Linked DNA regions of Homo sapiens. The protein of the gene in region 1 interacts with the protein of each later gene in a biochemical or structural test. Each region holds a gene or a part of one and is shown on either strand. Other genes may lie near its edges. The genes, in order: FGF2, SDC3, CSPG4 and DCN.

Region 1 (4,031 bases):
CATGCAAGTTTTCTGAATAGATATTTTCCTAGTCATCTGTGGCACCTGCTATATCCTACTGAAAATTACCAAAATGCAATTAACTTCAATTTTACATTTGGGATTTACAGAAAATAACTCTCTCTCCAAGAAATGCATAACAATTTAGCTAGGGCAAATGCCAGGTCCGAGTTAAGACATTAATGCGCTTCGATCGCGATAAGGATTTATCCTTATCCCCATCCTCATCTTTCTGCGTCGTCTAATTCAAGATAGGTCAGTAAAGGAAACCTTTTCGTTTTAGCAACCCAATCTGCTCCCCTTCTCTGGCCTCTTTCTCTCCTTTTGTTGGTAGACGACTTCAGCCTCTGTCCTTTAATTTTAAAGTTTATGCCCCACTTGTACCCCTCGTCTTTTGGTGATTTAGAGATTTTCAAAGCCTGCTCTGACACAGACTCTTCCTTGGATTGCAACTTCTCTACTTTGGGGTGGAAACGGCTTCTCCGTTTTGAAACGCTAGCGGGGAAAAAATGGGGGAGAAAGTTGAGTTTAAACTTTTAAAAGTTGAGTCACGGCTGGTTGCGCAGCAAAAGCCCCGCAGTGTGGAGAAAGCCTAAACGTGGTTTGGGTGGTGCGGGGGTTGGGCGGGGGTGACTTTTGGGGGATAAGGGGCGGTGGAGCCCAGGGAATGCCAAAGCCCTGCCGCGGCCTCCGACGCGCGCCCCCCGCCCCTCGCCTCTCCCCCGCCCCCGACTGAGGCCGGGCTCCCCGCCGGACTGATGTCGCGCGCTTGCGTGTTGTGGCCGAACCGCCGAACTCAGAGGCCGGCCCCAGAAAACCCGAGCGAGTAGGGGGCGGCGCGCAGGAGGGAGGAGAACTGGGGGCGCGGGAGGCTGGTGGGTGTGGGGGGTGGAGATGTAGAAGATGTGACGCCGCGGCCCGGCGGGTGCCAGATTAGCGGACGCGGTGCCCGCGGTTGCAACGGGATCCCGGGCGCTGCAGCTTGGGAGGCGGCTCTCCCCAGGCGGCGTCCGCGGAGACACCCATCCGTGAACCCCAGGTCCCGGGCCGCCGGCTCGCCGCGCACCAGGGGCCGGCGGACAGAAGAGCGGCCGAGCGGCTCGAGGCTGGGGGACCGCGGGCGCGGCCGCGCGCTGCCGGGCGGGAGGCTGGGGGGCCGGGGCCGGGGCCGTGCCCCGGAGCGGGTCGGAGGCCGGGGCCGGGGCCGGGGGACGGCGGCTCCCCGCGCGGCTCCAGCGGCTCGGGGATCCCGGCCGGGCCCCGCAGGGACCATGGCAGCCGGGAGCATCACCACGCTGCCCGCCTTGCCCGAGGATGGCGGCAGCGGCGCCTTCCCGCCCGGCCACTTCAAGGACCCCAAGCGGCTGTACTGCAAAAACGGGGGCTTCTTCCTGCGCATCCACCCCGACGGCCGAGTTGACGGGGTCCGGGAGAAGAGCGACCCTCACAGTGAGTGCCGACCCGCTCTCTCCGCCTCATTTCCATTTCGTGGGTTCTCGCCCGCTCTCTCCCCTCCAGCCTGCACCCTCCTCCCGGATCTTCACTGCGACCCTAGCGCTCCGTGTGGTTTCTGGCCGCGCGGCCCTCGGCGGTTTCGGGTTCACCACTCACCCCCTCCTTTCCGGGCTGCGGCGTAGGCCCGGGTGTCCCCTGGGCTTTGGGGTGTGCCAATTTGCCCTGTAAACCAGTACCCCCGGCCCGGAGCCGCGGCGCGCCGGGGCCTCGCGGACTGGCTGTCTTCCCGCGGACAACCTGTCGCGTCGGGGATGCCCGCGGCCCCGCCATGCAGCTCTGGCCGCTTCTATCTGCTGCGTGCTGTCCCGGGGACAAAGACAGGAAGGACCGCAGCAGAACGAAACGGTCTTTACTGGAAAAACACCTTTCTAGAGTCCTGCCCTTAAATTCCGACTCGGGACGACCCGAGGCATATGGCACACTACTCTCACCCACTCTGTTTTATATTTTTCCGAATTGACGAAAGCTGAAAGAGCAAAAACAAAAACCAACCAGCCAACCAGCAAAAAATCCAGATGTTGTTAATAAAGTGCCATAGCTTTGTTTCAGTAGTGAAAAGAAGTGCAAACACTTTAATCTTCCACCTGCAGTGACTAGCTTTGAGACCTTGAGCCGACGCTTAACCCCAGAGCCGGTTTCCTCATCGCTCACGTGGGGCTAATATATTACTACCTTGCAGCAGGCTTGAGGATGAAATGAGAATTGCAGTTTTGCTTTCTGTAAGAAACAATGTTTGTGGTTCTAGAAAGAACACTGGCCTAAATAAGGAGTGCTTGGACTTTAGGGGATTCCCTAAGTCTGGAGTGGGGGCTGAAGATTTGCATTTCTAACATGTTCCCCGGGGATGCTGATCACATCACACTTTGAGAGCCACTGGTCTAGAGGAAAGAGAAAGAAAGGGGCATAAGATGAGCCGATTTACAACACTGATGGAATTTGAAGTGAGAGAAAGAGGACTAGAATATATTGTAACCTGTCCTCCTGTAAGTGTATGTAAACATGTGTTTTAAAAGCTGTGTGTTATGGCGTTCCTTCCTTTATGGGTTCCAGGTGGAGAATCTGATTCTCTCATTGCCTGAGAAAAGACCCACAGGGGTCCCAGCGCCACTCCCCTGTAGTTCTGCCTTTGTCTTGGGATGCTAATGGGATGTCATGAGGGGAGGTGGAGGGGGGCTGGAAGAGAAGAAAATTCTACAACCAAACGTGAATTGGCAGAAGAATGGGCAATACACTTTCATATGAGCTGAGTCTTTATTGCTTCCAAAATAGCAACCTGCAAGAGAGGCAAGTATTTAATTTTTTTCAGGCTTGCCATAATTTAAAAATTTTATCAATCACTTAATCCCGTAAAACTGAAAAGATGCTTGTAACCTATTAGATGGGTTAGTGCTAGTTCTCTATTCTGGTAACTTGAACTCATCTATTTCAAAAAATTATCTTTGTGATTGAAGTTTGTTCTGCAGTTGTCTGCTACGCCATCTCAGCTGACAAGGGCAAGGTGCTGTGTGTCCCAATTGGTTTTGTTCTTTCTAGTATCACAAATTATTTATTAAAAAGCATGTATTATGACCAGAAGACAGAAGAATTTCCCTTTAAATTAAATTAATATTTGGGGCTTCCCCTAATACTCTTTTTTTTTCAGACTCTATTAGTTGCTGAATCATTTTTTCTTTGAAGATTTTGATACCCGATTCGCCTTAGAATAAAACTATGTAGAGGTTAGCCAGTGGACATAATTTTGAATTGCATACCACATTACCACCGTTGTAAAAACAACCGTTAACTTTTTCTTCCTAACTGTGAGTTGGGTTTTCATTTTTGTAATCTTACTTTAACTCTGTGGTTCTCAAATGGGGACGATTTTGCCTCCCAGGGGACATTTGACAATGCCTGGAGACATTTTTGGTTGCTGTAACCTGGAAGGGTGCTACTGGCATCTGGCAGGTAGAGGCCGGGGATGCTGCTGAACATCCTACAATACACATTATAATACCCTCAACAAAAACATTTTTGACCCCAAATGTCACTAGTACTCAGGTTGAGAACTCTGCTAACTTTATAACTAGCTAAGGACAAGACATTAAAAGGGAAATGTAGAATAACTCATCCAGACTTGTGGAGACTACCAATTTTTTTAAAATTTTTTATTTCTATAGGGTTTTAGGGACCAGGTGGTAGTTGGTTACATGAGTAAGTTCTTTAGTGGTGATTTGTGAAATTTTGTTGCACCCATCACCCAAGCAGTATACACTGAATCCAGTTTGTAGTCCTGTCCCTCCCCAACTTCCCACCCTTTCTTCCCAAGTCCCCAAAGAGACTACTCTTTTTTTAAAGGATACCTGTACCAGGCAATAGACTGACAAGAATACAAATCTAAAAATGACAAATTTCATCTATTTCTATGTAGCCCAACCTGGACATAAATTTAAGTACAGTATATTATTTTCTCACATATTGGATGTTTACTGATAGTTGACCAAACCATGAGGAGACCCCCCAAAACAAATAAAACTGAC
Region 2 (3,615 bases), on another chromosome or scaffold:
CTGAGGTTTCTCGGGGGCATCCGTGGGGTGTGTGGTGAGGAGAGGAGTGTGTGTGTGTGTCTGTGAGTACCCTAGGGCATGTGTACAGGCAGCTAGGGGTGAAGTAGATGGGTGAGTGTGTGCTGGTGTGGGCTGGGCTGTATTGCCTATAGGCTGTGGTGAGTATACAGATTGGTGTGGGCAAACATTGCACTTAATAGTGTGTGTGTGTATCCATTGGGGTGCATAGTACATGCAGAAGAATATATATGCATGAGGATGTTGGGCTGTCGTGTGTGTGTGTGTGTGTGTGTGTGTGCATGCGTGCGCGCGTGTCTTGGGGGTATGGAAGCCTCCTATCAGGCATGGGGGGGTTGTGTTTACCTGGAGGGGGCACAGTGAGGGTCAAGGAGAAGCTGGCAGCGTCCTGGGGCTTTTGGATTCAGTTCTCCTTTAAGGGAATGGCATGGATAATTATGCTTATTATGATGGATTATGCAAATGCGGAGGTCGTTTGGGGGTCAAAGCCTGCTTGTCACCCTCCTCCTCAGGCATTCTGTGACTTCTAAGGCTTTCCCTGCTGCCTCCCAGGCTCCGTTCCCCAACCCCTATTTCTCTGTCCCCTCTGGGAGTTGCAGCTACCAGCACCCCCTCTGTAGTGTTCCTGAGAGGGCCTCATGAGTCCCAGCGCCCATGCCTGCAGGTCCCAGGTGTCCTCGCATTAAGTTCCCGCTGAGCATCCCAGGTGGGCTCAGGGGTGACTGGGCCGTTCCTCCCCCTGCACACCCTGCCATTGGGGATGCTTGCTGTTCGGAAAGAATGTACTCTTGGAAGCAGGTTTGGAAAATTACTGAGGTGGCCCCTTCCCCAGCCTTGCCTCATCAGCATGAGGCTAAATTAGGATGTGTGAGTTCTCCCCTCTGCCTCCCACCCTTGCCTTCTCTCCTTCTCTCGTACCCCCAGCCCACCCTCCCCGTCTCTGCCCCTCTGCCCCCTGGCCTCCCTCAGTCCTCGACTCTCTGTCACCGTCTCTGTCTCTGCCTCCCCCTTCCCTGTCATCCTCTCAGTTCCCCCGTGATCTCTCCCTCTCCTGTACCACCCCATCTCTGTGGGGAGCTGCAGCTCCTGGTCGTTAGCATGGAGAAGATGGTCGTCATGGTAACGGTTGTCATGTCGATGGCTACTGAGCTGGGGATGAATAGTATGTAGGTGAGCGCTACCTGAGTGGAGGCTGATGGGTTTCCAGGAGGCTCGATGCTTGTCTCTGAGCTCAGAGCTGCACAGCAGGCCCAGCTCCTCCTGCCCCATGTGAGTGGCTGTTTTTACCCCCAGGCATGCTGACACGCTGAGCCCTCTGTGGCTGCTTTTAGGTGAGCATGTTTCAGTGTGTGTCTGTGCATGTGCTGTGTCTCTGGGGTGTGTCATTTCAAGGGTCTATGTGGCATGGGGGTAGGTCTTTGGGTTTGTACAGGCTTTTCTTGGAGCAGGAAGTTAGGGGCTAAGTGGCACTGGTCACTGAGGAATCTTGGGGACTCCCTTGTTTTGGCACCCACATTTACTTCAGTTGGGGGCTTCCAGGGACCACAGACCTCTTAGTATCCCTCCTCCCAGCTAAAGGCCTCCCAGCCACTGCCCAGCCTACTGGGAAGGATAGAAAGACAGTGAAGACAGCCCTGGGCAGGGGCAGGAGCCGGAGCCTGGGTCCCTGCTCAGTCCCCATTCTTCTGTGTGACTTCAGGCTGCTTGCCAGAGAGCTGGAGGGAGCAGGGACTCCAGGTTGGCTGGTTCAGGTTGTGGAGGGGAGTGCCATGGGGAGTTCTAGCTCCTCCACCGTGGGTATTTTTCTTTCTGGGCAGAGGGGAGCTGGGGAAAAGTTGGGCCCTACTGCTCTGAGCTCCTAGAATGTTTAAAAAAGGAGGAAGACCCAGCAATTCGTCACGGGAGAAATTACACTAATTGTTCCACTCCATGACTCACTGGTAGAAAGTAAATACTGATTAATTCATTACTTTGAGACTATGTGTGTGTGTGCATTTTGTGAGGGGGCACCTCCTGGCTCCCTGCCCTGGCTGGGCTGGGCAGGGCTCTGGAGCAGGTGGTTGAGGCTGGGGATATGAAGACAGGATTGAGATCCTCACTCTGGCTCTGTATCAACTCCAGAAGGGGGCCCATCAGTGGCAGGGGGTGAGAGGCTGGGCCCCAAATGCAGGGCCATTCCAGCCCTCGCCTGCTCACACATGCCCCAGGGCTCCCCACAGCCAGCCCAACATTGCGGCTGCTCAGAGACCACCCCAGACCTACTGAACCACTGAATTTAGTTTTCACAATATTCAGATGTGCAGTCAAGATGAAAAATGACCAGTTTCTAAGAGAAAGTCATCAGCCAGACACTGAAAGCCTTCTGGGATGGGACCCCAGGTGACTTGCCACACCCCACCCCTGCCCTGTGAATTATTCACACACGCACTTTCCTTCAGGGTACACACAAGATCTCTGTCACCCACGTGGATGTCACTCAGCCCACAAGGGCACCTGTCGCCCTTCTGGGCTCACCCAGGCTGCCAGTCTCGGGTGCCGAGCCCTGTGTCCACCTCTACCTTCCCTAGGCCCAGCGCTGGCGCAGTGAGAACTTCGAGAGACCCGTGGACCTGGAGGGCTCTGGGGATGATGACTCCTTTCCCGATGATGAACTGGATGACCTCTACTCGGGGTCGGGCTCGGGCTGTAAGTACCCCCCTCCCTACCTCTGCCTGGGGGCAGTGACCAGTCTGTATCCAGCCTCAACTCTGAGAAGCCCACGGGGGGCTTGCTTCAGTGAGGCAGGGGGCATTCACTGCCTGGGTCAGGCAAGTTCTTCTTGCTCTGGATCCCCAGAACAAGAAGGGCAGAACATCCTTCTGGGGATAGAACAAGACCTGGGAGGACCTCAGGGCCCAGAATGTCCAGGTCTCCAGGGTCCCACGTCTGCATCTTTGTGTGTGCTATGTGGCTTTCTCTGCAGACCTTGCTTGGTTCCGGTGGTCCCGTCAGGTGCAATAAGCTGTGGCCAATGGTGGGGTTAGGGCAGTGATGACACAGGGCAGGTGCTTCAAGTGGTGCCTGGGATGGCCCCGCCCTGGGGAAGGGGAGCCAGGTCAGCTGGGTCTAGCAGAATCTCGGGAGAGAAGGGCACCGCGAACCCCACTCTGCCATGTAGCAACTGTGTGCCCCTCGGTGCTCCCCCTCCCTGAATCCCTGTATTTTCACCTGTGGATGGTGAGAAATACGACTTCTTCTCAGTGCCTCTAGGAGGGTTTGGGATAGGAAGCTGGGGTCTGGCACAGAGGAGGAGCTCTCAAAATGGTAGCAAAAAGAAGGCAGCTGAGACTGGGCCCAGTGAGGGCACGGGCTGGCATCTGAGGAGATGGTACGGGGTCTGCACGCCACAGAGCTGGCTCCCCACAGCCCTCGCCTCTGGTCTCCCCTCCTTAGCCAAGTCCTTTGAGCCTCTTTCAAATTAATCTTTGTAAAACCCGTTTATATTGGGTCACATCTCTATTCGCAAAGTTCCCTGGCTCCCCTCCCTCCTGCCTGGTTCCGAGCCCAGGAGCTGGCTGTGGCTTCTCCCTCCCCCATCCCCTACTCCCCATCTCATTT
Region 3 (3,615 bases), on another chromosome or scaffold:
ACACATTCACACACACATACATACACTCACACATACACACTCACACACACGCAGTATTGCTCAGTAGGCAAGGAGAGTGTCCTGCCCCGAGCCAGCAGCCCCAGGGAAAACCCCCAAAATCAGGACACAGTGCCTCGTTCCCCCGCCAGGGCAGGCCCTCTGGCCTGGGCCAGTCCACTCTCTGGGGAGACAGAGGGGGCTGGGGAGAGGAGACGAACTTCCGTTCCCACCTAAGAGCAGCCCCTTCCCCCACCCACATTTCAGGAAGGGGCAGCTATAAATACCAGTGGGACCAGGACACTGATTCCCACGACACCCGCTTCTCCCTGCCCCTTCCCTGTGCACAGTTGCTGGGGCCAGACCAGCTCTCCTGCAGCTAGAGTCCAGCCAGGCAGGCCTGAGGCCTAGCCACACACACACAGAGACACAGACATACGCACACAGGCACACACAGACATAGATACACACAGACATACAGACACAGACACATGCACACAGACACACATACGCACACACACACGCACACAGACATATACACACAGGCACAGACACACACATATGCACACAGACACATACAGACACAGATACACACACACACTTTTACTTCCCACCCTGGTCAAGGAGGAGCAAATCACCCTTTTTGGGAGTCTGCGAGCAGCTGAGAGGGAGCCCCTCCCCTGCCCCTCAGCCCTGACCCAGGCCCCATCTCTCCCTCCTCTGAGTCCTGAGCTGTGGGAACCCACACAGGGAAGCAGGAGGCCAGGCACATGGTGGTGAAACACGGCATTAGAGAGCTCAGGTTGAATTCCAGCCCTGACGCTCTATGCATGACCTTGGGCAAGTGACTCTGTCTTTCTGAGCCTCAGTTTTCTCCTCTCTAAAATGGGGATAAATAATTCCAACCTCTTACGTGTTGTAAGGATTAAGCAAGACACTTTGCCTGGAATCAATGCTCGGTGGACATCTGCTCCTGAAGCTGCAGTCACTCTGCTATTAGCATCTTCTTCCCAGGGTGGAGTGGCCCGGCAACATGGGGACTTCTGCTTAGGAGTGTTTAAGGAAGATTCCGAGGCAAAGGCCTAGAGGAGGTGGCCCCGTGAGTCTGTGTGGGACTAAGTGACATGGAAAAGGAGAGGTGGGCTCTGGAGAGGGTATCAGCCAGCGGCTGCCTGCCAGCCCAGGACCCTTCAGAAGGTGGGAGGGGGTGGGGGTCTGCATCTCTGTGGCTAACTGGGCTGAGGCCCACACCCCTCTCTCAGTGCTAGAAGAAGTGGGGACAGCCCCTGCCTGGCCCTCCCCAGGGCCTGTTTCTCCCAAGCCTAACAGCCCCTAGGATGGGGCTCACTGGGCCGGGGCACAGCAGGAACCCCCTGTCCCCAGAGCAGGTGAGTGAGGAGAAGAGAATGAGCAGGCCCCAAGACCTTTTATGGGACGGGGACCCTAGAAGCCTGTCTTTTCCCTGCTCTCTACCAACCCCTCGCGAGTCCCTCTCTGGAGGTGGGGGCTGGAGGCCAGGGCCCAGGGACGTGGGACAGCTCACCTGCCAGAGTCACCATGGGGCTGTTACCACCACTCATGATATAAGCAGTGGTGGCTGCATCACGAGGAGCAGAAATCCGGACTGAGGGAGGGGACAGCCCTCTCCGCTCTGGGCTGCTAGGACCCCTCAGTGGTATGGGTGTATGTGAGCTCAGAGTAGGGGGAGGTGTGGGGAGGTGACTGAGGTGACTGCAGAGTGGGGTGCACAGCTCGGGGCAGGGACACTGGAGGGACCCCGGACAAGGGCAGGCCTGTGCCTGAGCCCTCAGGGCAAGATCCCATTGTGCAGGCCCCCACTGCCTTCACCCACGTAGAGGTGACTCTTCTCCACAGACCCCTGGACAGGGCCCGGCCAGGCCCCCCACCCACATGTTTTAATGGAATCCAGGTGGCTGCCCCTGGCCAAGGTTCCATCTCTGGGCATCTGGGGCCCGTGTGCTTCTGGCCACCCATCTGGAGCCTGGCTGAGCCCCTCCAGGGGTGGGTACTCAGACGGGGGCTGTCCCTCCAACCGTGGACAGCCCTGGGGCCAGCGAGATATTGTAGAGGCCTGAGCCAGCTGGCTGATGGTGCCACAGCCCTTGGGCTACCTGGCCCTGCTATGTGGCCTTGGGGAGACCCCTGGCCCTATCTGGGCCTCTGGGTGGAATCTTCAGTCTCCTAGGTCAGCTCTAAATTCTGAGCTTGAGCCTCTTGGGAACAGGACAGGGGCCTCTGCCTCTATCTAGAGAGAGCCAGCTGCTTGTCCTGGGCCAAGCAGCAAGGCAGGCTAGGCCTGGAATGGGGCTGAGAAGCAGCCCAGCCTGCCAGGACTCCCTGGCATTGGAAAGCCACTTTCCTAAGTTGGCATGGAGCCCTGGGGCTCCCCCCGGGATGAGAGCAGCGGCTCCTCTCCACCCCCGGCTCCCATCTTCCACCCCCTGGCCCCAGCCCCGCCCTGCCAAAAATAAACCCAGACCACCCCATCTTGTACCAGCCAGACCCACCCAGCCCCTCCAGAGCCAATTGAGTCACCACTCAGAGCTGCTCCTTTTTTAACTGTCTGAGTCACTGCTTGTGGCTCCATGACACATGCCCCAGGCTACGGTTACCCCACAGCCCCTACAAGCGCAGCCAAGGGAGGGGTCTGCGTAGAGGCTGGCAGCAGGTGTGAGTCCAGGCCATAGCCTTAGCTTGTGAGCCCTCCAGGCCTAGGGAACTCACTCCATAACAAGCCAGAGACCAGACCTGTCCCTCAAGGTCCCGGCCGTGCCCAAGACAGCCCTTGGGGATCTTGGTGACAAGGTCAATCTGGGCTCTGCCCCACCGCATTGCGTTGCCTCCAACAGGCCTGGGCCTTCCCCGTGGAGACTGCCGGGAACGGAGGGTCTCCAGCCCCTAGACCCTGGAGGCTGGGGGTGGGCGAGGCCACAGAGACGCCTGCTTCCTCCCTCCTCACCGGCTCCACCCGGACTCTGACCACGCTGCCTGGAGCACCATGAAGACTCTATGGGACGGAAGCCACACTTCAGTCTCCCCTCACGGCTTCTGTCTGCCCCTGCGCAGGGTCACCCGGGCTGCAGAGCACCCCCGATCTCTCAGTCCATCCCCCCATCCCGCTCTCTCCATCTCTCTGTCCTTTCCCACCCCTGGCTGTGGTTCCTCCATCTCTTTCTGTCTGTCTTTCCTACCCTGTCTCTCTGTCTGTCTGCCCATCTCTCCAGTCCTGCTCTGTTCTCCTTCCCTTCTCCTTTACCGGGTTCCACGGCAGTCAGAAGTGCTCCCTGCCGCCAGCACCCCACCCGTCCCCAGGGCCCTCTCTGCCTTCTCAGTAGACATAACAGACCCTCACCTCCTCCCATTCCCACAAGGGACTCTGGGCCCCAGGGACCAATCCTGAGAAATGTTCCGCTCCCCTCACCAGGTCCTCCCGTGCCCCAAAGTGCAGGCTACATCCTGTCCCAGGGAGTGTCAGGATCCCACAGGCACTTCCTTGGGGGTTGACAAAGGCGGGCAGGGGGGCCTGGGAATGGCCCCACCTCCCAGTCCATGCTAGAGCAGGGGCCTGTAAGCCTCAAACCCCATCCGTCTTCTGTC
Region 4 (2,532 bases), on another chromosome or scaffold:
TTACCGTTCTCCATAATGCTTTTCCAAGAAACTGGTTTATTCCACAATTTTATTGCAGAGGCAGCTGCAGGATATCATAATCTTATCTTTATACGAAGGAAGAATTGCCTAATCCCTCAAGTAAACTAAAAATGTTTTATACAGTCATTTCTCATTCATCCAATGTTCCAGGCAGTCCCAGTCCAAGACTGCCCCTTCACACACACAACAACTCTTCACAAGACTTCACTGTCCTTCAGACTCTCCTGCAGCACAGACATTCGAGGTTGCTGAGTCGACATTGCAGTTATTTCACTCTTGATTTTGCTGCTCAATTTTAAGTTTCCACACTTATTGCTAAAACATTCCTTCTAGTGGATCTGTTTATGTATTCAAGCACACCATCTGTCACAATTATTTCAAATCACAGGTCTGTGACAGACTGTCAATTTCACACCACAAAGTATAATAGTGGAAAACAAAGTAAAATCAAGAAAGGGAGAACACTAAACTTATTAAAACCATATACAAGCATACGCATTCAGGAAACTAAAACAACCTTCAAAGAAGTTGAACAATTTTGAGCCAAAAGAAAGGGCATATGCACACCCTACCCCAGTATAAGATAACCAGAAAAGGACTGGGTGAGTTGCCTCCTGAGTATTATGACTGCCATCAATCACTTAGGCATTGGAGATCAGGAGACTCTTCCCAGGCCACACATTCTGCAGTGACTGTGAGGGCTGAATGAATGCTTCCAGGCCATCAGGAACAAGCATAGAAACACAAATCAATTTTAAAATACACTCAAAAATGTCAAAATAATCCAACTTTTTTGTCTTGATCAGATATATCTACTAGCACATATTACTTCATTTTTTCAGCCAATATTTATTAATAACCTACTGTGTGCTTGACAGTGTTCTAGTGGCAGAGACACAGCAGTGCATAATGCCTTGCCCTCTGAAGCAGATGTTGCAGCAGGAGGAGACATTCCAGGACATGACAATTAAAGTGGAGGAATGTCAAGCAGAACTGGGGAATAAGGGATGTGAAGGGGGTGAGACTTGCTATTTTATATAGGATGGTCGGAAAAAGGACTTATCAGGAGTGACATTTGAGCAGGGAGATGAAGAACTGAAGGGAGCAAGCCAAGAAAAGAGGCCCTGAATTTGGAAAATACATGGCACGTTCCAACAAGAGCAGAGAGGACAAACGTGAGCAGAGTAAAGTGAGCAAGAAGAGATAATATATGATACAAGGTCAGAAAGGTAATGACAATCGCATCCTGTAGGACTTTTTAGGCCATTGTAAAGATGAGCTTTTACTCTGAGTAAGACAGAGAGCTATTAGAGGGGTCTCGGTAGAGGAGTGACTTGATTCAACTGTCTTTGAGAGGATCCCTTTGCGTGTATAGACTGTAAGGTAACAGGAATAGGCCAAGAGAGAATATTTCGGATGCTAGTGCAATAATCAGGTGAGAGATGATGAAGACTTTGACCTGGATAATAGTAGAAAAATTGTTGAGAAGGGATCAAAATATGGGGTTTGTTTTGATGGTAGAGAGGCCAGGGATGGCTGAATGATCAGATGGGGCATGAGAGAGAAAGAAAAGAAACAGAGATGACTTCAGGAATTTTGGCCTGGGCCACTGGAAGGATGAAGTCACCATTTACTGAGATGGTAATGACTGGGAGGTTGAGCTGGAAGAACTGAGAATCAAATATCTGGTTTTGAATCTGTTCTTTTTGAGATGCATATTCAACTTCCATATGGAGGTGTCAAGGAGGATTTAGATCTAGAATTTTGGAGCTCAAGGGAAAGGGTTGAGCTGTAGACATAAATTCTAGAGATGCCGGAATATAGATTGTGATCCTTCTTTATCAGCACAGAAATGACTTGACTTTGTCCAAACTAAGCAATCATACTGTACATGTTAGCAACACATTTTACAGGGCCAATTTGGCCTTTTGCAATGTTCTGTGGTTTCTAAGATAAATAAACATATTATATGTTTCCCTCTGGATGCCTTTGCTATGATCCTGTCAGCATTTCCAAAACAGTTCTTGCTTGAACACCACCAAGGAAAGAAAAAAACCTCTTGAGAAAGAAATCATTGTTTTTTTTTTTTTTTTTTTAAATCCCTGTGTTTTGGCTTATGAGTTTAAAACTTACAAAAACAGTCTAGTTTCTGTTTTCTTCAAGAATTCACATTAACAAAAGTGTGGCTTGGTGCCTGTTTTGAATGTGAGTTGATAACTTGCTGGTGGTTTGACAGTTATAAACAAACAGTCTTATAGCATAAAGAAAGCATATTCCTGAAACTGCAGGAGGTCTCATTGAGCCTCAGGCACTATACCAGCATGTTTAACTAGAAAATCATGAAAACACATACAACTTCTATAGCTAAGGCCATTTTTACATGGAATTGCAGCATAAAATGACTCCATCTAATTCTGTAAAAGTTTATATTGATGACTACTTTATAAAGCACCCATATTGCCACTTGGTCTGACAAAGATATGTGAAAAATATAAAAAATTTCTTGAAGTA

The links.
Region 2: the proteins of FGF2 (region 1) and SDC3 form a complex in vitro, tested with the Homo sapiens proteins (one study listed by BioGRID).
Region 3: the proteins of FGF2 (region 1) and CSPG4 form a complex in vitro, tested with the Homo sapiens proteins (one study listed by BioGRID).
Region 4: the proteins of FGF2 (region 1) and DCN form a complex in vitro, tested with the Homo sapiens proteins (one study listed by IntAct).

The regions. Positions count from the first base shown.
Region 1 is NC_000004.12:122,825,904-122,829,934, forward strand, and holds the start of FGF2 (fibroblast growth factor 2 isoform 18 kDa), read left to right. Parts: upstream 1-1,271; coding exon 1,272-1,449; intron 1,450-4,031. UniProt on the Homo sapiens protein: Acts as a ligand for FGFR1, FGFR2, FGFR3 and FGFR4. Also acts as an integrin ligand which is required for FGF2 signaling. Binds to integrin ITGAV:ITGB3.
Region 2 is NC_000001.11:30,877,711-30,881,325, reverse strand, and holds part of SDC3 (syndecan-3), read left to right. Parts: intron 1-1,235; exon of another isoform or gene 1,236-2,385; coding exon of another isoform or gene 2,386-2,397; intron 2,398-2,585; coding exon 2,586-2,703; intron 2,704-3,615. UniProt on the Homo sapiens protein: Cell surface proteoglycan that may bear heparan sulfate. May have a role in the organization of cell shape by affecting the actin cytoskeleton, possibly by transferring signals from the cell surface in a sugar-dependent mechanism.
Region 3 is NC_000015.10:75,702,814-75,706,428, reverse strand, and holds part of CSPG4 (chondroitin sulfate proteoglycan 4 precursor), read left to right. Parts: intron 1-3,615. UniProt on the Homo sapiens protein: Proteoglycan playing a role in cell proliferation and migration which stimulates endothelial cells motility during microvascular morphogenesis. May also inhibit neurite outgrowth and growth cone collapse during axon regeneration.
Region 4 is NC_000012.12:91,139,957-91,142,488, reverse strand, and holds the end of DCN (decorin isoform a preproprotein), read left to right. Parts: 3' UTR 1-2,005; downstream 2,006-2,532. UniProt on the Homo sapiens protein: May affect the rate of fibrils formation.